2 separate regions of the Homo sapiens genome follow, and region 2 is linked to region 1. Evidence: fine-mapped expression QTL. A gene starts in region 1. The other region holds a variant in brackets. All regions are shown on one strand. Distances are from middle to middle.

Region 1 (10,512 bases):
GGTTTCACCATGTTGCCTAGGTCAGTATGAAACTCCTGAGTTCCTCTGCCCTCCTTCAGTAATGGCAATTGTGGTGAGAGTCAAATAAACTAATACATAATATTATTAATAATGTTATCTGCAGTACCATCACAACTGCAATTTTTGGCCCTCATGTATGATGAAATATCTTTGTAAGATATTTGCTATCTTAAAGACCAAATAAGGTCATGAAATTCTAAGGTTTGCCAGCACACATACAAATGTGTGTGTGGTTTCTCCCCACACAGCAAGCAAGCACTCAGGTCTGCAGTGGACACCAGCCAGGTGTCCTCCAATTCAATTCTGACACTACCTGGAGATAATTCAGAACCCACAAGTTGAGGACTCAGTCCCACAAGATCACTCCGCTGTCCCCACCGTCCCCCATTCAGATGTTAGTTGCAAGTCTTGGCCTCCAGAACTTCTGACTGACCCACTTCAAGATGGGCTTCCCATGATCCTCTCTTTGGATTCAGTTAATTTACTAGAGCAGCTCATAGAACTCAGGGAAACACTTACTTCCATTTACCAGTTTATTATAAAGGATAGTACAAAGGATGTAGCTGAAGAGATGCATAGGGCAAGGTATAGGGGAAGAGGCATGGAGCTTCCATGCCCTCCCTGGATGCACCATCCTCCAGGAATCTCCATATGTTTGGCTAGCTGGGAGCTCTCTGAACCCTGTTCTTTTGGGTCTCTTAGCAAGACTCCATTGGATAGACATGATTGAAGATAACCAGGTAGAAATACGATTAGGCAAAAAAGGATATGATATAATACTAACAGACTGAGTCAGGAAACCTAGTAAGGCCCGCCTGTCTAGATTCTTCTTGGCCTTCCTGTGCAGCATTTCTTCCTGCAGGGTATGGGGTGGGACACTCTCTGGAATGAGAAATCAATCAGAAAAGCCAGGAAAGATTAGAGTCCTGCCTTGGGCAGGTGAAGGGAAGTCAGAAGAAGGTCGGAGAGAGAAAAGCCTGCTTCTGAGGCCTAAAGTGTCCCAATACTATAGCAAAAGACTGTAGCAAGGGCTATGGGAGTTATCAGCCAGGAACCATGAATCTATATTTATACGTGGAGGAGTGGAGTTTAGTGAGGAGTGGGAGTTGGGGAGGAAATTTTACATATATATATGTAAAATATCATACCTCTTAATTGGTCTCTTTCTTTGCTTTGCCTCCCCATAGTCACTTCTCCAAACTGTAAGTAGCCAGAATGATTCTGTTAAAATATACAGTTGAGATCATGTCTCTCCTCTGCTCAAAACTCTCAATGGCCTCCCATCTCATACAGATAAAGCCAACATCTTTACCATGGCCTGGAGGACCCTATGTGACCTAGATTCATGTTTTCTGACCTTATATCTCAGGAACTCTGCAACAGCCATACTGGCCTCCTTGTAGCTCTGAAATGTATCAGGAGAATGCCTGTTTCAGGTCTTGGAACCTGCCATTCCTTCTACGTGGAATGATCCTCCTCCAAATACGAGCATGACTTGCCCTCCTCTTCTTGCAACTTTTCTACTTTAATGTCATTTTCTCAGAGAGGTCTTCCTTAGCTCTTTTAAAAAATTTTAACACTGCTCCTCTCTCCCCTGCCCTGCCATCACTTCTCATCCTTCTTCTCCAGTTTTTGTCTCCTTAGTACCCACGCTTACTTATCATACATGATATTTTACATATTTGAATCTATTCTGATACTTTGCTTTGTTTTCCTTGCAAATTCTCATTCTGTACCCTGGTTTCAATAACTATATCCCTGTTCCCTGCCTTGGCTTGTGTCTCTAGCTCACATCTCAAATGTCAGGTTGCTGGATTTTAGAGACAGTCTTGGCCCACTCAGTTTCTGCCCCTGCATTTCAGTTTTTGTTGACGGAAAAACTGAGCTGCAGGGGCAGGAAGGATTTTGTTCAAGGTCATATTTTATATTAAGTACATTCGTGAGTTTATTCAACATATACTAGGTGCCAAGCATTTTACTAGGCACTGGATAGAGAGGAGTGAATAATATATGCAGTTCCTCCAGTCTTGAGAATGTCACAGTAACAGTGATTTATATATACAGATAATTATAAGACTGGATACAAAAAATCAGTGATAGAGAGATGGTCAGGATGGTCAGAAGAGGGAATTGAACCAACATGAAGAAGGTGAGAAAAGCAGAGAGACAGGGTCAGGGCTGGAGTTCTGTGTCACTTAAATCTTGCAGCATTTACAATCATTCATTCATTCATTCATTCAACCTAAATGTATTGGATGTCTACCATGTTTAAACTATTGTGCCTCCCTGTGAAGATACAAAAGGTATTTGATATCTTATGAAAGTTCTTTAGTAAGATATTTGGTATCTTAAAGACCAAATAAGGTCATGAACTTCTAAGGTTTGCCAGCAAATTTCCACCCTCAAGTCCCTGCCCAGTTAAGCCAACCAATTTCAAAGCGATGGAAATTTGTTTCACAGTTTCTTCTCGCTCCCTCAGAGGACCCAGCAAGTAAGATTACTGTTGTGCAAACTGGCTGTGATTCAGAGCTACAAGATAATAGGCTCATGTTGTCAAGTCTGGCACACGTTTCAGAAAGCCCCAACGTCCTTGGAATGGGCAGGTCACATTTGTTCTTACACAAGTCACTCAGCCAACCAGCCCCAAGTAGAGGTTGCAGGTGGTGGGGCCTTTAATCTTTCAGGACACACCATTGGCCTTTCATGGTTACTTAATCCGGAGATTAAGTCCTGCTTAAAGATACACTCTGGGAGAAACTGATGGTCAGAGTGGATTGAGGATACAGGGCCCAGGACCTACGCTAGCAGGGGGTTTGTATGTCACATCTGGTCTCCAGCTACTCTGGTAAAAGAGGCAGATACAAAATACCATAAACTCTGCAGGTAATTGATCTCTCCTTTGTGGACCTGTGTAGTCTCCCTGGAAGACTGCTTTTTGTTTTCCTGTAAGGAGGGATTGGTGATATAGTGGAGTGGCTTTTAAACATGCATCCAACACATGTAAGAGCATTTGCATCTCATTCTCCTCTCCACTCCTCCCTCTGTATTTCAAGGAAATGCTGCTTACAGGCTTAGTAAGGTGGGGATTAAGAATTAATTATTGGATTTAGCAATTTGGTCATTGGTGACCTTGACAACAGTCGTTTCGGTGAAGTGGTGGGGGCAAATACTGATTGGAATGGGCTCAAGAGATTACAGGCAGCTCTTTTGAGGAGCATCAGTGGACCAGAGACTCGGAATACAGCTGGAGGAAGATAGGGGGTTAAGAGTTGTTTTTTTTGTATTGTTTCTGTTTTTGTTTTTAGATGGAAGAAATTACAGTGTACTTGTTGTGCTGGCTGGAATGGCCCAGTAGAGACAAAAGCTGATGATACAGAAAGGAAGGGGGATATTGCTAGAGAGATGGCCTTGAACAAGAAAGAGGACAGGAACTTTTAGTGATGTACTAGAGCTGGCCATTCAACACAGCTATTATTAAAGTATATAAATTTACAATCACATATAAAAATTAATAAATATTTATTTATTTGAGATGGGTCTCACTCTGTGGCCCAGGCTGGAGTGCATGGCACGATCATAGTTCACTACAGCCTTGAACTTCCGGATTTAATAGAGCCTCTGGCCTTAGCCTCTCAAGTAGCTAGGACTACAGGTGTGCACTGCCACACCTGGCTAATTTTTTATTTTATTTTTTGTAGAGATGGGGTTTCACTATGTTGCCTACACTGGCCTCAAACTCTTGGCCTCAAGTGATCCTTCTGCCTTGGCCTCCCAAAGTGCTGAGGTTACAGGCATGAACCATAGGAGCCTGGCCAAAGAGTAATAAACATTGAAAACTCATCCCTTCCTGCTACATTTTCCATTATTTATGTTTTTGGTTCTTTATGGCTGTCGTATGTGGGTGGTGGAAATACTATGTGATGGTGTGCTTCTGTGCTTCCCTCCCCAACTCCCACTCCTCACTCAACTCCATGTTGCTAAATCCCCAACTTGTGTTTAGTGACATCGAGTTGGCATCTTTAAACATGGTAGGAGTATTTACACCACAGGAATCAGCAACCTTTGGAAATCAGGGCCTTGCTTGATTTATACTTTAAAGGACAGCTATTTGTTAAACATTTTTCAGTTCACCTCAGGATTCAGTGGACAAATGGAGACACTGGTGCTAAAACAAAGTGCTGACAGTTCACCCACAGGAACAAGAGTGAAGGCAAGGCATTTGGTCTGGTGGGTAGAGAGGTGGCAGAGCGATGTGACCTATTGACTAAGTGAAAATGGAAGTAAGGTAATGACTGGAGTATAAGGCTGGGAACAAAGGTGTCAGAGGTGTGGAGGAATGCGGGAGAGTAAGTGGATTAGAGAAATTCAGTACTCTCTTTTTTTTTTTTTTTTGAGATGGAGTCTTGCTCTTGTCGCCTAGGCTGGAGTGCAATGGGCGAGCTCTGCTCACTGCAACCTCCGTCTCCCGGGTTCAAGCGATTCTCCTGCCTCAGCCTCCGGAGTAGCTGGGACTACAGGCGCCCGCCATCACGCCTGGCTAATTTTTGTATTTTTAGTAGGGACAGGGTTTCACCATGTTGGCCAGGCTGGTCTGGAACTCCGGACCTCAGGCGATCCGCCCACCTTGGCCTCCCAAAGTGCTGGGATTACAGGCGTGAGTCACCGCACCCAGCCAGAAATACAGTACTTTCATAGTGTATTTGTCTGGCACCATTAAAAGGCGCCATAGGGTTAGTGGTTATGAACTTAAAAGATGCACAGTGGGTGTGTATTTTCCTTCAGCCCCTTCTGGTGGCTTGGGTAGAGACAGTCAGAGGAGACCTAGATTTACACAAGGCTAGGGTTTTGCCAGACCAGTGTGACTGCGTATGGCAGGGGCGAGCGAGATGGCAAAATCGTAAAAGTCATCACCTCAGAGACCCTCCATAATCACCCTCACTAAAATCATGTCCGCGCCCGTGTCACTTTAACCGATTATTGTTTTTATTTTCCCAGCTTGTTGATTGGGTGTGAAATCAGCCGGCTCATCAGCAGAGCTGGTGTTTCCTCCCTGCGGAATCCGCAGTGCCCACTACAGCGCTGGGGCATAGGAGGCCTCAGAACCGTGCTGAATACACGGATTAACGTGCTGGTTCTCCTAACATCTGTTGGTTGCAGTAAATAATAATACTCGCAACTCTTTTGTATCCTCTAGTTCCTTGCTCCGTGGTGTTTAACCTTAGCGAGCAAAGGAACTTACCTGCAGGTTTTGGTGCACTAAAACGCGGTTCTTATTCCCGAGGCAATCTTTACCTTACACGAGGCCCAAACCCAAGCCTCAGAGGCAGCTGCCTGGTGGCATGAGTAATGCTGGCCTTTGTCACACCAGGCCTTCCTTATTAATACTTTTTTCCCGTGCTGCCAACCACGGCTTATTCTGTGACTCCAGGCGGTGATACCATAAACGCATAAGCCCAAGGTCCAGGTTTCCTGGGGCGGGGCGTGATGGCTCCCAGGCAGAGAAGCTTTTCTCGGCAGGCGCGGCCGCGGGAGGGCACCAGGGCCGCTCTGGCGCCGCCAGCGTGGAGACCGCGGGGCCCCGGGTGCTCTGGGAGCGCTCCAGCGCCTCCCGCGCTCTGTAACCCCAGGCCCCGGACTCTGGCAGTAGGGGCGTGGGCGTGGCCGACTGCGCGTTTCTCCGAGTGGCCAATAAAGTTTCGAAAGTTTGAAAAGCGGAGGAAAAAGGCCACGCCCATGTGGCTGTCCGAGTGTGGGCGCCTCCGGGCCTCTGCGGAGCCCTGGGCAGCTCTGAGCTCGCGGAGGCGTGGCCGGTGCGCGGGGCCCGCGGCGCGCGGGGATGGGGGTCTCGGTGGATGTGCACCAGGTGTACAAGTACCCCTTCGAGCAGGTGGTCGCCAGCTTTCTCCGAAAGGTACCGCCCCGCTTCCACCTTCCGTATCCCGCGCTGCCTCCGCTGCTTGCCCCTCTCTCCTCTCCTTCATCCACGCGGAAGCTGGCACCGCCAGTGTCTCTTTCCAGCTGCGGGCTTTGCTTCAGGGATGTGTGGGTCGAGAGGGATTTCCTCGAAGACTCCCTTTACAGGGAGCGGGAAAAGGGGCCGTGCTTGGCATCACGTTCACACCTGCCCCAGCTGAAAGAAGAGGCTTTCCTTTTAGGAAGAGCCTCCGGGAATCCCAGCTCGTGAGCTCCGTGGAGTTGCAGATGACCGACGTGTGGAGCTTTCCGGTTCATCACTGACCCCTTAAAAGCGAGGGGAGGCCATTGGGCAGTCATCCTGGTTTACTCAGCATGATGGTTCTGCTGCCCCATCCGCTGCTCCTTATTAAACAGCTGTGGGACATCGTGCAGGTTGCTTACTCTCTTTGTGCCTTAGTTTGCTAATCTGTAAAATGGGGAAAATAATAGTACCGACTCATAGAGTTGTTGTGAGGATCCAAATGAGGTAACTTGTGTAAAGTGCTTAGCACAGTTGTGACCTAAATGAAGAAACTGAGGCAAAATCAATATAAAAAGAGAGTTCATTCGAGCCAAGTTTGAGGGCTGCATCCTGGGAGTGAAGGTGCCCTGAGTATACATTCTGATGAGCAGAAGTCGAAAGTGGGTTTTTAAAGGAGAATAAGAAGCACTTCCTAAGTTGTTTACCAAGAATTTATATTAAAATAACATAAACTATTGATTGTCTGTACATTGTTCTTTGTATCACAAATTCCAGGAACTTGAAGATAATGGGTAAGGCAGCTGGTCAGGAACAAAATGCCTTTAACCAGTTGCTCCCAGGAATGGGTTGGGTGAGGAGGGGACCACTAAAGTCCTATACTCTTGTCTCTCTGGGCTTGATTGATTTTGCATATTTCACTGTAACTCACACAATCTGCTCTGAGCTATTTTTCTTTTTCTCACTGCTACTGATGTTTAGTTAGGGCTCTAAAATGTTATTGTTGTTTGTATTACTACAACCGATTTCAATACAGATAATGAACTCTTCCTCAATACTGAGGAGCCCTGAATCCCAAAGACTGTTTCTAGGATTGTGGGTCCTGATAATAGGAAAATGGGAAATGTCTTTGAAAAATCGAAAGCGCCCAGGCCTGGGAGGCAGGACTCCTGGACTCTGATCTGGTTCTATGCGTGGTTAGTTCTCTGGGTGACCTTGGCTGAGGGTCTTTTCTCTAGGCCTTAGTTTCCACATCTATAAGATGAAGGGGTTGTACCAGATGATCTTTGAAGGTCCCCTTCGGTTTTCATAAGCAAAATTTGCAACAGTTGCAATTTGCCTTGGTTAGCAGCCACGGGACATTGAACTCCATATGCAACCCGGAAGCCAAACTAAGGGAGATGCTGGGAAGATGAAGGTCATTTGTTAAACGATAAGGTGTAGCCTCCGTTAGAGGAGGTGACACGGTGGCCCTGGTCACAGAGGAGTGAGGAGGACACTGGTTAACACTTTGTTGCTATAGGGGGCCTCTTTAGAAGGAATGTCAGCTTGCTGATATGTTCGTTGATTTTCAGTATCTAGACTAGTGCCTAGCACCTACTAGGTATTTAATAAAAACCTGAGCAATGAATAAATGAATGAAAGAATGATTTACAGACCTGTTGTAGACTTTGCCTTAGGCCAGGCTTCTGGGCCCAAAAAGTAACAGCCAACACCCAATTTTTTTGTTAGAACTGGCACTTTGGAGTCTGGGTACCCTTAAGCCACTGCTCCTTTGTAAAGTCTTTTTGGATTGTCATCATCAAGAGTCAGTTGATCTCCACCTTCTCAGAACTCACAGGGCACTCTGTCTAGGCGTTGCTGACCGTCTGCAGTGTCAGATGGTGACTTCTGTATGTGTTGTGTTTCCCGTTAGACTCTAAGGTTTTTAAAGGTGAGACTCACTCCTGCAGAAGCACATAACACAATGCCAAACTCTTATTTACGGAGGTCCTGGCGCATTGTCAGCTTTTGGTAAATGCTTTTCTTTTGTTGAATACTTATCTTCTGTGTGCCAAGCTTTGTGTTAAGTGCTAGAAAAATGTGGGAGGTCACCGCAGACCCTGTTCTCATGGAACTGATGGTGTGTAGTGGGGAGATTAACATAAATAAATGATGCGCAAATGAACACAAAATTCAAATTGATGATGTGTACTTATGAAAGGAAAATACATGGTGCTTGAATATAGCAGGGAGGCCTGCTGAAGTCAGAGAGGGTGATCTTTAGGAAAGGCTTTCCTGAAGAAGTGGCACTGGTGAAATGATGGCTGAAGCATGAATAGAAGTTTCCTAGGAAGGCTGGGTGTGTGGTGTGTGGTGTGGTGTGTGTGGTGTGGTGTGGTGTGTGTATGTGCGCTCATGTGTGCTTTCCATACTTTATCATGTTTACTGCTGCCAGCACCCTCAGGAAGTAGTTATGATTAATTTCCATTTTACAATATAGAGAAACTGAGGACCAGAGAAGTCCAAGTGCCTTCCTCAAGTTCCCACAGCTAGCAGGTAGGACAGCCAGGATTTTAACACATGGATCCGAAACTCACAGCCTTAGCCACCCGGCTGTGCTGCATTGCATATAATAGGCACTTCAACGATTATTGAGGTAATACAGGGTTTCAGAATCAACTTTGCCGGCTGGGCACGGCAGCTCACTCCTGTAATCCCAGCACTTTGGGAGGCCGAGGCGGGCGGATCACTTGAGGTCAGGAGTTCAAGACCAGCCTGGCTAACATGGTGAAATACCATCTCTACCAAAAATACAAAAAATTAGCCAGGTGTGGTGCCCTATGCCTGTAATCCCAGCTACTCGGGAGGCTAAGATGAGAATCACTTGAACCCAAGAGATGGAGGTTGCAGTGAGCTGAGATCATGCCATTGCACTCCAGCCTGGGTGACAGAGCAAGACTTCATCTCAAAAACAAAAACAAACAAAAAAACCCAAAAAACTTGGCTGTGCTCAATGTGTTTTCTTTTGTTCACAGTCTTCTCTCAGGGTTTGCTCAGCTAAGTGGACCTGTTGACCCTGATATAAAGATATAACTTTGATGTGTGTTAGGGTGAGAACACAGAATGTTTAAGTTATCTATTGGTATGTAACAAACCACTCCAAAACGTAGCGACTTAAACCAATGACAGGCTTTTAATTTTCACAATTCTGTGAGTTGACTAAACTCATGTGGTTGATTTTTGTGTGCTGTGTGGTATAGCTGAGGTCACTTATGTAGCTGTATTCAGTTAGAACCTGTTGTAATTCTTATAAAATATTTAGCAAAGTACCTGGTACATAGTGAATAAGTACTATGAAAAGGCAGAACTGGGAAGGGCAGAACTGGGAAACAGAACTGGGGATGTCAGAACTGGGAAATGGAAGGCAGAACTGGGGAAATGAGAGACAAACATTTGGAGACTAAAGGTCTAGTGATGGGACAGTGTTAACATCATGCATGTCACTGTACTTCCTTTCTTTCTATTCATTCATAAAGGAATCCTTCAGAGATTCCTTGGGAGGAACTATGTGACTATTTCTAAGATGTCAGTAAACCCATTTGCTGGGTGAATTTTCCCCTTATGTTATTCAAAGCCATGAACTGGTAGTCAGTAGACCTGGATCTTGATCATTATGCTTTCACTGTTAGGTTGGGTGGCCATGGGAAACAATTTTCACCATCCTATACTGTGTCCTTGTGCAAATTAGAAAAGGCATCTTTTAGGGGTCCACTCCATAAGCTCACAGTTCATAGGGCTAGGGGAAAGCAAATGAGACTATTTATGCAAATTAGAAAAAGTTACTCCTTCCTTTAGGTGGATGCAGTCCTGTGCCCACAGGCCCACTTGACCAGGAGCCCTTGTGCAGTCAGCAGCATCACAACTGTGTAAGCCCTAGTTTCTCCTCTGTGAAAATGGTAATGCCACCTACCCCACCTACCTTCCAGGGTTGTTGTGAGGATGTCACATGTGTTAACAGTTTGAAAAGCATAAGCTTTTTTATAAGCCTAAGGTAGTAAGAATTATCTTTTTGGCAAAATACACTTTTATTTTTCTTTCAGTCTTTATGATTTTTTTTTCAAAGGAAAGCACTTGGCAGAAGCGACAATCATATGAGGATCACTGGGAAGCATTTAATCTGATTTTGCACAATGGTATGTTTGAAGCTGCTTTAGCACTGAGGAAGTTCTATTTTAAATCAGATCTACTGATCTATGGCTTTTGGTTTGTTAGGAGTTGCCTTCCAAGTTATAATATACTACGGTTTTTAAAACCTGAAGAATGTTTGCTCTTCTTACATCTGCCTGTTGAATACCACAGGCAAAATATTAGCTGCATGCTTTCAAAGCTAAGTGACACTGTGAAAACAAACAATATGATACTCTTTGTTCCTAAAATACAATATTTCTCAATAAACTCTTCATGGAGGAATGTTATGAAACCCAAAATAGTTTATTCATTGGATGCTGAACTGTATGTACTTTCCAAGAACTATAGTGTCAATGCACTTGACAGTGTATTTTGGTTTCTTTCTT
Region 2 (10,512 bases), 22 kb before region 1:
GGGAAACTGAGGATCAGGTTAAGTAACTTGCCAGAGATCATTAGAGCCAGTAGTCAAATCTAGGTCCATTTGTTGAACAGTCTCTTGACCATAATAACCCTATTATGCAGTCTCAATTGGCACTGGTTACCATCTTCAGGGCTCTACAAGCCTTGGAGTCTGCAGTAAAAGATCAGGCCCCTCTTCTTGGTCATGGAGCTAGTAGAGGTGGATTGGTGGGTCTGTTGGGTTCTAGAACCTAAGCTATGCTGTGCAACTATGTTCTATATCCTACTAAATATTTTCTGAGAATAATTTTAAAAGATACAGAGAAAGGAAGAAAGAGGCTTATAGTATACAAGCCTTGTATAGAGTGGTGCTTATTAAATACTTGCTGAATTAGTTGAATGATTAAAAAGAGCATGTTGAGGGTAAGTGGTCAGAGAGTGGTAACCCAGAATAAGAATGGAAACTCCAGTGAAACTTCTAATAATGTAGTGCACCCTAGAACTATATGACATTAGATATAATTTGATGGAAGACGTGTTCTTATTCTCTACAGAAGGCTTACTAGGTCATTTCATTAATCTTTCAATATCTGATCTGGCGTTTTATGCAAATGAATTTTTGGATCACATGTATAGCATTATGTTAGGATTTTACTGTACTTTCCCTCACAGTGTGGACTTATGTTATTAAAATCTCACTGGGATGAAGTACAAAACATAAAACCTAATGGATTTGGCAGGAAATGAATCGTGGCAACTTGCTTTAAGAATATTTTTGCAAATATGTATTATTTTGAATACTTTAAGAAAACAAATTCTCCATTGTTAATATACTAAAATATGGTAGCAATCAATAAAATATTAACGAAAGGGTACATAGACCTGATTTGAGTTTTTGTCAATTGGGTAATTACTTTCATTCCTTAAATCTAGAATAAATAAAATTTAGTATCTTCTTAGGCAATTTGCAGCATGATGGAGCTATTTTCAAAACGTATGCCTCCCTTTTCAGGGATTATTTTTATTCTTAGGTTATAAAAGAAAGCTGAATGAGTTGGGCAGAGCTACCCAGCGGACTCCTGCTGTCTTGTTGGTCCCTAGAATTTAAGAACAGGAAGGGTTCTCCAGATATTATTGTTCATTTGTTTATTCATTTGACATAAGTAGCATGCCAGGCACTGCACTAGATGTTTGGGAAGTGATCATGAAATGGTACAAGTCCAGAGAGCTCCCTGTCTAATCAACAGGAACTTTCACTGGAGTATGGGATACCTGTCATGCGAGGGGCAGTACAGGTGGCCATGGGGGTGGGGGAACTCCTGGTCCAGAGCTGTGGGTGGGCAAGCCTTCTTGGAGGAAGAGCTGCTAAGCTGACTTCTGGGGACAAGCAGGAGTTGGCTGCGTTGGGATTGGGGAAAGGTCCCTGGAGACCAAGTACAGAGAGGCCCATGAACAAGATCCTGATGAAAGAAGTGACAAAAAATTTAAATCGGCTAAGGAGACTGGGTTTTATCCTGAGGTTTTATCTGGAGGGCAAGTGTTCATTAAAAAGGTTTCCTGATTGCTTTCTATGTGACAATCACTACTGCAGGCAACTTAATAAGCTTGGCATCAGTGGGAAGAACATACCACAAGACCAGAGGCATGGGTCCACACTCAGTTCATGCCAGAGTCAGTGGGCAATTGGGCTGGGATTGTAGTTGTGGGATGAAGAAAGCAGGATGGATTTGAGATTTTCAGAAGCTGAAATGGCCAGGACTTGGTACTGAATTTAGCAGGTTTCGATCTAGTATCTCCCCTTATTTCTGGGAAGGTTCATAGTCTATAAGGAGTACCAAGATCACCAATTTCCTTAAGATAGCTTTAAGGGGGAGAGCAAGACAATAGCCAAGGAACATTTTCTGAAGAGTGGGAGTCAAGAACTGGAGATTTGTTAGCAAGGCTTAGGAGAAGGTGCACCTATGATCTGACAGATAATATTGCATTACATATATTCTCTCATTTAATGTTCCAGCTACTCAGAAGGGTAAGCATTATTATTCAATTCTATAAATAAAGAAACAGATTGGGAGAGGCTAAGGGAACTATTCAAGTTGCACAGCTGATGGCAGACAATAGCCTCAGTCCTAGTCTATTAACTCCAAAGTACAGAGCTCTTAATCACTGGGCCTTAGCTCTCAAAGAGAATAAAGATATAAGTACTGCAAGCATACAGAGCTAAGCTTTGAAGGATTGTAACATTTATCGATTCATTCATTTCTCCACTCAGTCTCTCAGTCACACAGAACAGTCTTGGGCATTTACTATGGACAACTACAATGAGGGGCTGTGCACATAGGCATTAGGAGCATGAATTCTGGTGCTCAAATCGCTGAGATGAGAGCCCACCTCTTCCTTTTTCAAGCTGTGTGTGTGACCATTGGCAAACAACTTCTCAGTATCTCATTTTCCCATCTGCAACACAAGGATAATAATACTTACACTATCTCACTGGGATTTTGTGAGGATTAGATGGATGATATATAGGAAGCACTTAGAACAGCACCTGGCACCTATCAGGCATGCTACAAGGGTTCACTTGTAGTATTTGGCAATAAGGAAAATAAAGTCCTTGCCCTTTATGGAGCTTACAGAAAAAACAGGTCAGAGATAGTGACAAGGGCAATGAAGATCATGAAGTCTTGGAATGCAAAGTGTGGTGGCACAGGATGCTGTCTTAGAGGTGTCCACCAGGGGAATCCTCTCTGATAAAATTGCTGTAACTATTCTGGGTCCCAGATGATTCTCTCACTGACATTCGTGGGAAGCATTTTCCTCTATTCTGCCCCAGCCTTTGCTGTAGTCTAGTGCTGTTTTGACCTGCATGTGAACAACGGACTTGAACTGCTGCTTTAACTAAACCCTAACCTGTCTCTTGCAGGAAGGGGATATTCCCGAGGACAGCTGTTTTCACTGCCGAGGGTCGGGCAGTGCCACCTGCTCTCTGTGCCACGGCAGCAAGTTCTCGATGCTGGCCAACAGATTTAAGGAGTCCTATCGGGCCCTGAGGTGCCCTGCCTGCAATGAGAATGGCCTACAGCCTTGCCAGATTTGCAATCAATAGCCCGTGGCTTTTGCATGTCCACTGTTATCTTACCCTCCCTAAAGTTATTTCTAATAAACCGCCCCCTTCTCCTCCTCCTGCCTCTCCCAACAAGGAGGCCACAGTGGCTGCAGTCACTCCCACTGCTGGCAAAACTCAATTATCTGATGACATTTTGTGAGGCCGGTAACATCTCTCTGTGGGTCTAAGTGGCAGGGGCATTTCTGAATTATAGTCTGCTTTGAAACTGGTTCTAAAATTATCCTTCCAGGATGGTGTGAGTGTATCTCACTTGACTTAGCTCAGTTTTCTTCTTGCTTCAGTGAGCAAATACATGTACACTTCAGGCATCAGGTTGGGAGTTATTTTGCAAAATTATGTGGTGAGAAAGGAGTAAAAAAGGCAGGTTTCTGATGAACTGATTTCTTGTTGCTTATAATGCATCTCATGTGATTATTAGTCAAACTGAATTTCTGATTAAGCAGAAGAGGAAACGGACAGCCAACGCTGAACGCACTAGCAGGCCACAGCAAGCAAAATGGGATGTTCACTGTGGAGACAGGCAAGCCAAGGAGCCTTCCCTTTCAAAGTCCTGAACCTCTTCCATGTGGTGTGTTTGGATAATATTTATGCAGACAGTGAGCAATACTATTTCTTAAGTCAAGATGAGATAAGACATTTTTGTGTGCCTCTAACTACTGAGGTTATAAGCCAAGTCAAAGTTATTTATGATAAATTTGGTGCTCAAATATGTGTGTATGATATAACTTCTTCGAGCCCCTGAATTACTACCAAATAAATAAATCCACTTTAAGTCTAGAACCTAGCCATGATCTCTTCATAAAGGACTGCAGGTATTTTATAGATTACCTACTGGAAATCTCTAAAAGAAAAAAATTAACCAAGGCTGATTTTTAGCAGTAATGTTTCTACTATCCATGAATATGCATAGTAAGGATGATTCTTTCCTCTTGAGGTTGGTTATAAAATTAGAACATACTTTTGTTAATGAACTTTTATAGCTCTAACACCCACTCCCCAAGCCCCTTAAGAATAACACTGCAAAATTTATCTCTTGAGACCTGCTGCATTCTGTGATAATAATTTTGATTTCATAACTTAATAATTTCTCAAGATTTGTTTGTTATTCTCTAATATTCAGCGTTTAACATAATTTAACAATGGAATGCTTTTCAGGCAATATAAATAATTCTAATAAAAAAGACTAAAATATTTTTGAAGCCTTGATAGTTTTGCCTGTCCTTTCATACTCAGGAGTTACCATATTGCTCACCAGCTTTCTTTGCTTCTGTCCTTAACTGTTATACCTCCTGCCTCTGTTTATGTTTTCTCACAGCTGTTGGCTCTTCTGACTTTTCAGAATACTAGAGGAAGGAGGGATGTTGAGAGTGTATTCTGCTTTTTTTTTTTTTTTTTGTGGGAGACAGAGTCCGCTCTGTTGCTCAGGCTGGAGTGCAGTGGTGCAATCTTTGTTCATTGCAACCTCTGCCTCCCGGCTTCCAGCGATTCTCCTGCCTCCGCCTCCTGAGTAGCTGGGATCACAGGCACATGCCACCACTCCCAGCTAATTTTTGTATTTTTAGTAGAGACGGGGTTTCGTCATGTTGGCCAGGCTGGTCTCCAACTCCTGACCTCAGGTGATCCGCCCATCTCGGCCTCCCAAAGTGCTGGGATTACAGGCATGAGCCACCGCGCCTGGCTCTATTCTGCTTTTCGACAGGAATATTCCGTCACAAATATTGTTTGAGCCCCGCTGCATACAGGACAGTATTCCAAAGTGCTTGATGTATCATGTTACCCAGAGAGGCATCATCCCTTTGGTATCTCATGGAACTTAGTTTTAGAGGAGGAGATAGATACATAAATGGATAATTGCAATGCACTGTGACAAGTGCTGGGATAGGATAATTACAGGGAGCATTTGGAGCATGCAGAAGGGGCATCTAATTTAAGCCTTAGTGGGGTTATGCAGGTTGCCCAGAGGAAGAAGTGTGAGCAACCTCAGCTTCTGTAAAGAGCCTTTAATGTTTTTCATCACATAATAAATAACCTACTAATGATCATATTTATTGTGTTCATTTCACAAGTATTCATTTATTATTGTGGTAGGAACACTTAACATGAGAACTACCCTCTTAATGAACTTTTAAGTGTACAGTATGTTATTGTTGACTATCTACAAGTATTTATGGAGCACCGAGGATGTATCAGTAGACAAAACAAACTAAATGCTCCTACGAGCTTAAATTTTGGTGAAGGAATACAGACAACTAAATATATAGATTTATGGGAATAATATATATGTTTATGCAATAAGTATAGCCTATAGAACAAAATATATACAATTATATATAGTAAGCTATATATATAACACATACATTACATATATACACACACATATATGTAACGTATAGTGGTGTTAAAAAGGACAAAAGGCTGGGCGCGGTGGCTCGCACCGTAATCCCAGCACTTTGGGAGGCTGAGGCGGGTGGATCACCTAAGGTCGGGAGATCAAGACCAGCCTGACCAGCATGGTGAAACCCCCCCTCTCTACTAAATACAAAAAATTAGCCAGACGTGGTGGCACATGCCTGCAATACCAGCTACTTGGGAGGCTGAGGCAGGAGAATCGCTTGAACCCGGGAGGTGGAGGTTGCAGTGAGCCAAGATTGTGCCACTGCACTCCAGCCTGGGCAACAAAAACGAAACTCCGTGTAAAAAAAAAAAAATAGGTTGCAATTTTTAAATTAGCTTGCAGGGAGGCTCCTTGACAAGGTGCCATTTATCAGCTTGAGACTGATGTCTAGGAATATAAATTAAAAATAAAAATAAGAAATAAGAAAAGGTGTCATTTAAAGAAAGGCCTAAAGGAGTTGAGGGAGTGAGCTGGGAAGGTGTCTGGCGTAAGACTATCCCAGGCAGAGGAAACAGCAAATGCTAGAGTCGGGAAGAAGAGCGCCTGCACCTTTGAAGAACAGGGAAGGAGCCCGCGTGGCTGGTCTGGGTGAGCATGAAGACAGCAGCGGGGATGACGTCTGAAGGGAAAGTTCGTTCTTGTGTGTCACGGCGGGGGCGCCTCCCTCAGATGCCACGATGAGAACTCGGGTTTTACTCTGAGTGAGGGCCTGCTGTGGATAGAGCCTGCTTTCTGCTACCGCCCTCCGCACTCCCTTTCAACCCCCCGCCCCCTTGCTGCTGGGGCAGGAGACGTGCAAACTACACTTTCCGGACCCCCCGTGCCCGCTGGCTTCCTGTTAGGTGCGCCAGGACACTGGGAGAGGAGAGGGAGGAAGAGCCTTCCTTTTTTTGAATCGGGTTCCCGGC[G/A]GCCTTCCCATAGGGCAGCTGCAGGAGCAGCAGCAGCAGCTAGGAATGCTGGCCGGCTGCTTGCTTCCACCAGTAGCTGCTTTACTGGCTCTGGTTGTGGGCTCGCTGAAACACCATTTTCCCTTTTGTTCCTCCTTCCTAGGGGTGGTAGTGGCTACCTGCAGTCACTAATCTTTGTAACCAATTCCCTATATTTCCTCTCTTGGAAATACCTGGAATGGTTTCTGTTTTCTTGATTGGGCACCGACTGGAGCAGAGGAGGGTCATGGTCTGATGATTTATGTTTTAACAGGCCACTCGGGCTGCTGTGTTGAGAGGAGACACCACTGGCAAGGGCAGAAATGGGAGGCCAGCTAGGAGACTATTGCAATAATCTTGGTGGCAGCTAATAGTGCCAGTGTGGTATCAGTGGATGTGGTAAAAAGTGGTCAGACAATGGATATATTGTGAAGCTAGAACCACAAGCTCTATTTACCGTCCTTTGAACTCAGGAATATTGCTATGACCCCTCGTATGCAAAACATACATACTTGAGTTCTTTGCCTATTACTGGAGACAAGTTTGCACCAAAACATCCACTTCCTGATTTGTGAACTATAAGTATTTGCCAGTGGGTTGGGCAGGGTTAGGAATAAGTTTAAACAAGGTTAACCAACTGGTACTCCACTAAGACTACAAGAATCCCTTCAGAGCTAGAAACAAACACGAAGGTTAAAAAATATCATCATAATGATGCTGTGATTAAAATAATACTATATCCTTAGAAAGCTCAAAAAAGTTTTTAATAAATACGTCTTAAAAATGTAACATCCATTCATTTATTCATTGAATAATTTTTTGTTAGATTTCTGCTATGTTCTGGACATTCGTACTAGGTCCTCAGAAGACAAAGATGAAAAAGGATTTAGTATTTATCGTTAATGAAATTACAGTCTTGGGCCTCTAGTTCACATAGTAACTGAATTTCGGCCCACAGTTTGGGGAGGACACTATAGCTACCCTTTGCTACTTACTCTAGTAACTTTCATTTGTCTGCTTGAGGTCAAGTTAGATCGGCCTGGTTTGGGGGCTGTGTTTGTTAAAGAATGTTATGTATGCATTTATTTAAATTAACAAGCACATATTAGCCTTAACTGCACGTAAGGCATTGCTCTAAGCAGTTCACACTTAATCAGCTCCTAAATTGTCTTAAAGTTGAGTTAATTCAGTTTATTGACCATCTCTTAGTCTCACTCATACTGTTCCTTTCCATGCCGTGCTCACCCAGAGTAAATACACAGGCCCTTTCTGTGATCCTCACAAACATCTTGCCTTACTAGGCCTTTGTGGGTGCAACAAACTGTACTGAAACTGGGGATCTACCCAGGGGACTGACACTGCATCATAGTAATGAGAGGACTTCACAAGACTTCTGCAGACTGTGCCAGCCACTTAGCACCCTTCTGCTGGTTCCTCCTTCCCTCTCTGCCTTCCCATCCCAGCTGACCCTTATTCTTCTTACTCTGTTGCCAGAGTGACTCATCTTTATGGCTCCTATTTCCAACTGTGGCTCAGCCTCAAGGCTTATCTACTCTTCACACACAAAGATCTGCAGAGACCAGGAAGCTTCTTTTTCACAGACTCCACCCTCCTTGAAGGACACTTGTGGTTTGAAATGGCAATATGTTCCCCTCCCTACCTGTCTAAGGGGCTCTGTGCAGCGGGAAGGGCAGAGTCCACAGGCCTTAAACCTTTGCCCCTATAGCAACTCTACCTTTTCTTCCTTGTTTTCATGTTGGTTTCCAGGTAAGATCCCTGCTAAAGAGAGCACAGTACATTTAAAATTTTTGAAAACAGAGTTAACTATTTACTTTGTGATCCATACTTTACTTTTCCAAATTTAACTGGCCAAAGACATCATTTAAGCTTCAGTTCATAGGTAAGATGATATTTTCCTAGTCTAACTCTTCCACAAATATAAATTGCTCTGGTAATATATTCATTTAGATGAGTGCTGGCAACATTTATAAAAAAAATTCTGTGGTTCACTAGAGCTTATGCTAAATTTTATGCTAAAGTGGAGTGAATTTTATGCTAAAGGTAAATTTGAAAGAGATGTTCGCAGTTGTTTTTTAATCACCTGTCCTCATTAGTCGCATGTCCTCATTTTCTAATTAAACACAGTAATTATAGAGAGTCACATTCATGCAATTATGTGAGAGAGAAATGGAGTTATGTCAGTGTCAGAATTATGGCATATAATTACTGCGTGTGTTAAAGAACACATAAAACCAAGAGAAGAAAAGACCTAGAAACATAATACAGTAGAACTTCCTTATTGCTTGAGAGTTGGGGAAAGGAGGGAGGAAAGGGGCAGTTAAATCAGACCTTGACAAAATGAAAATCTATGTTTATCTCCTTTTACACTATGAGTTTCCTCTGTGTATAGTCCCCTTAGCATCCCTATTATCCAGCTCCCAGACACATTTTCCTCCATCAGTGATTATTTCCCAGAAGATTAGGGCCATTAATTCACACTAAGGTATAGATGACTAATAGATAATTGACCATGTCTGCTTTCTTAGGTTCAAAGTGTTATAATTTTTGAAGGCCTCCTATGTGTCAGGCCATGTGTAAGTCACAAGCAGTCACACAGATGAAAGAGACATAGTATCTTCTCTCAAGGACATCATGGTCTCACAGGGAGTTAGAGAATTAAACGAACATTTGCAAAATAAAATAATACATGCCATAGGAGGGGAAGAGGATAAAGATTGGTTAACTCTCCTTTCATTGTTGGTCTCCCTCATTCAGCTTTGAGCTTCTTGAGGGCAGGAACTGTGGCCATGCATCATTGTATCCCCAGCATCTACACTGTGCTTGGTGCATAGAAGGTGTTCTATAAATATGTGGTGGTTTGGTGTTTGCAGAGACATGACCCTTAATTGCACATACAGAGCCCTCAGTGTATTGTTGTCTCATGGGCCAATGCCTTGTGAAAATTTCACCAGTGGGCAGCTTCTAAAATGCCTCCCAATGATCCCCACCTCCTGGTATTCCTGGCCTGTGTAATCCCTTCCCCTTGAGTGTGGACTGGACCAAGTGACTTACTTTTAACAATAGGCTATGGCAAAAGTGATGCGATGTCACTTCAAAGATGAGGTTGTCAAAGATCATGACTCTTTCTCTGGCTTTTTGCTTGCTCACCTGTTGAGGCCAACTGCCATGTTGCAAGGTGCCTTATGGAGAGGTCCACGTGGCAAGGAGCAGAAGGTGGCTTCCAACCAACAGCCAGCAAGGAACTGAGGCCCTCAGTCAGCTGCCTGCTGGGAAGGGAATCCTGCCAACAGCCACGTGAGTGAGCTTGGAACAGGGTCTTTCCCAGTTGAGCTTGAGATGACTGCAACCCCAGCTGACAACTTAATTGCAGCCCATCAGAGACCTAGAGTCAGAACCATTCAGCTAAGCTGTGCCCAAATCTCTGACCTGTGGGATACAAAACTGTGAGATAATATATGCTGTTTTGAGCCAATAAATTTTGGGATGATTTATTACATAAGAAAAGATAACCAGTACAAGGTAAGACCATCTTCTGTCCAGGTCTTTGTTGATGTAGCCTTATATATCTGAAGGTTTTTCTCATGGAGAAGAATACTAGCAACCATTTGTTCTTTGTTTAATGCTCAATTTATTAAGCTCATAAATCTAACACCAAAAACTAACAACCAATTTTTCTTGGGGCCTTTAAATACTGATCACAAATTTATTAAGCAAACCACTGTAAACAATTTAAACAAACTGCAATTATATATTTGGAATGTCTAACCCTTTTAAACACTTCAAAACCGTAATTCACAAACTTATAGAAACAAAGACTACAGAATATATTGCTATAGTTTCACAGAAATCTACTTTAGGGCATCAATATCGTGGGTTTGATGCTTTTCTTATTTCTGTGCTTGTTTTTCTATGCTTGTTTTGATATACCCTCAGGATTTCAGTACTGTTATTTTTATTTCTTTCTGGGGTCACACGATTGTTAGAAGGCCCAAAGAAAAGATTATCTTATCAGAACAGCCTAGATTGCAAGACTTGGTTTATTGACTGATTAATTCTTGG

The links.
Region 2: its variant is fine-mapped to the expression of PRELID2 in gastroesophageal junction (GTEx, PIP above 0.99).

Annotation. Positions count from the first base shown.
Region 1 is chr5:145,830,597-145,841,108 of GRCh38, reverse strand. PRELID2 (PRELI domain containing 2) reads left to right here and starts at 5,767. Exons shown (of 7, transcript NM_205846.3): 1 at 5,767-5,932. The coding sequence starts at 5,858. RefSeq lists a silencer at 5,456-5,575.
Region 2 is chr5:145,852,311-145,862,822 of GRCh38, reverse strand. It overlaps GRXCR2 (glutaredoxin and cysteine rich domain containing 2), which reads left to right. Exons shown (of 3, transcript NM_001080516.2): 3 at 2,908-4,302. The coding sequence ends at 3,090. Among named protein-coding and RNA genes, the nearest start is that of GRXCR2, 15 kb to the left of the region's middle. RefSeq lists a cis regulatory region at 7,666-8,265. The variant G/A (reference allele first, on the strand shown) is at 6,415.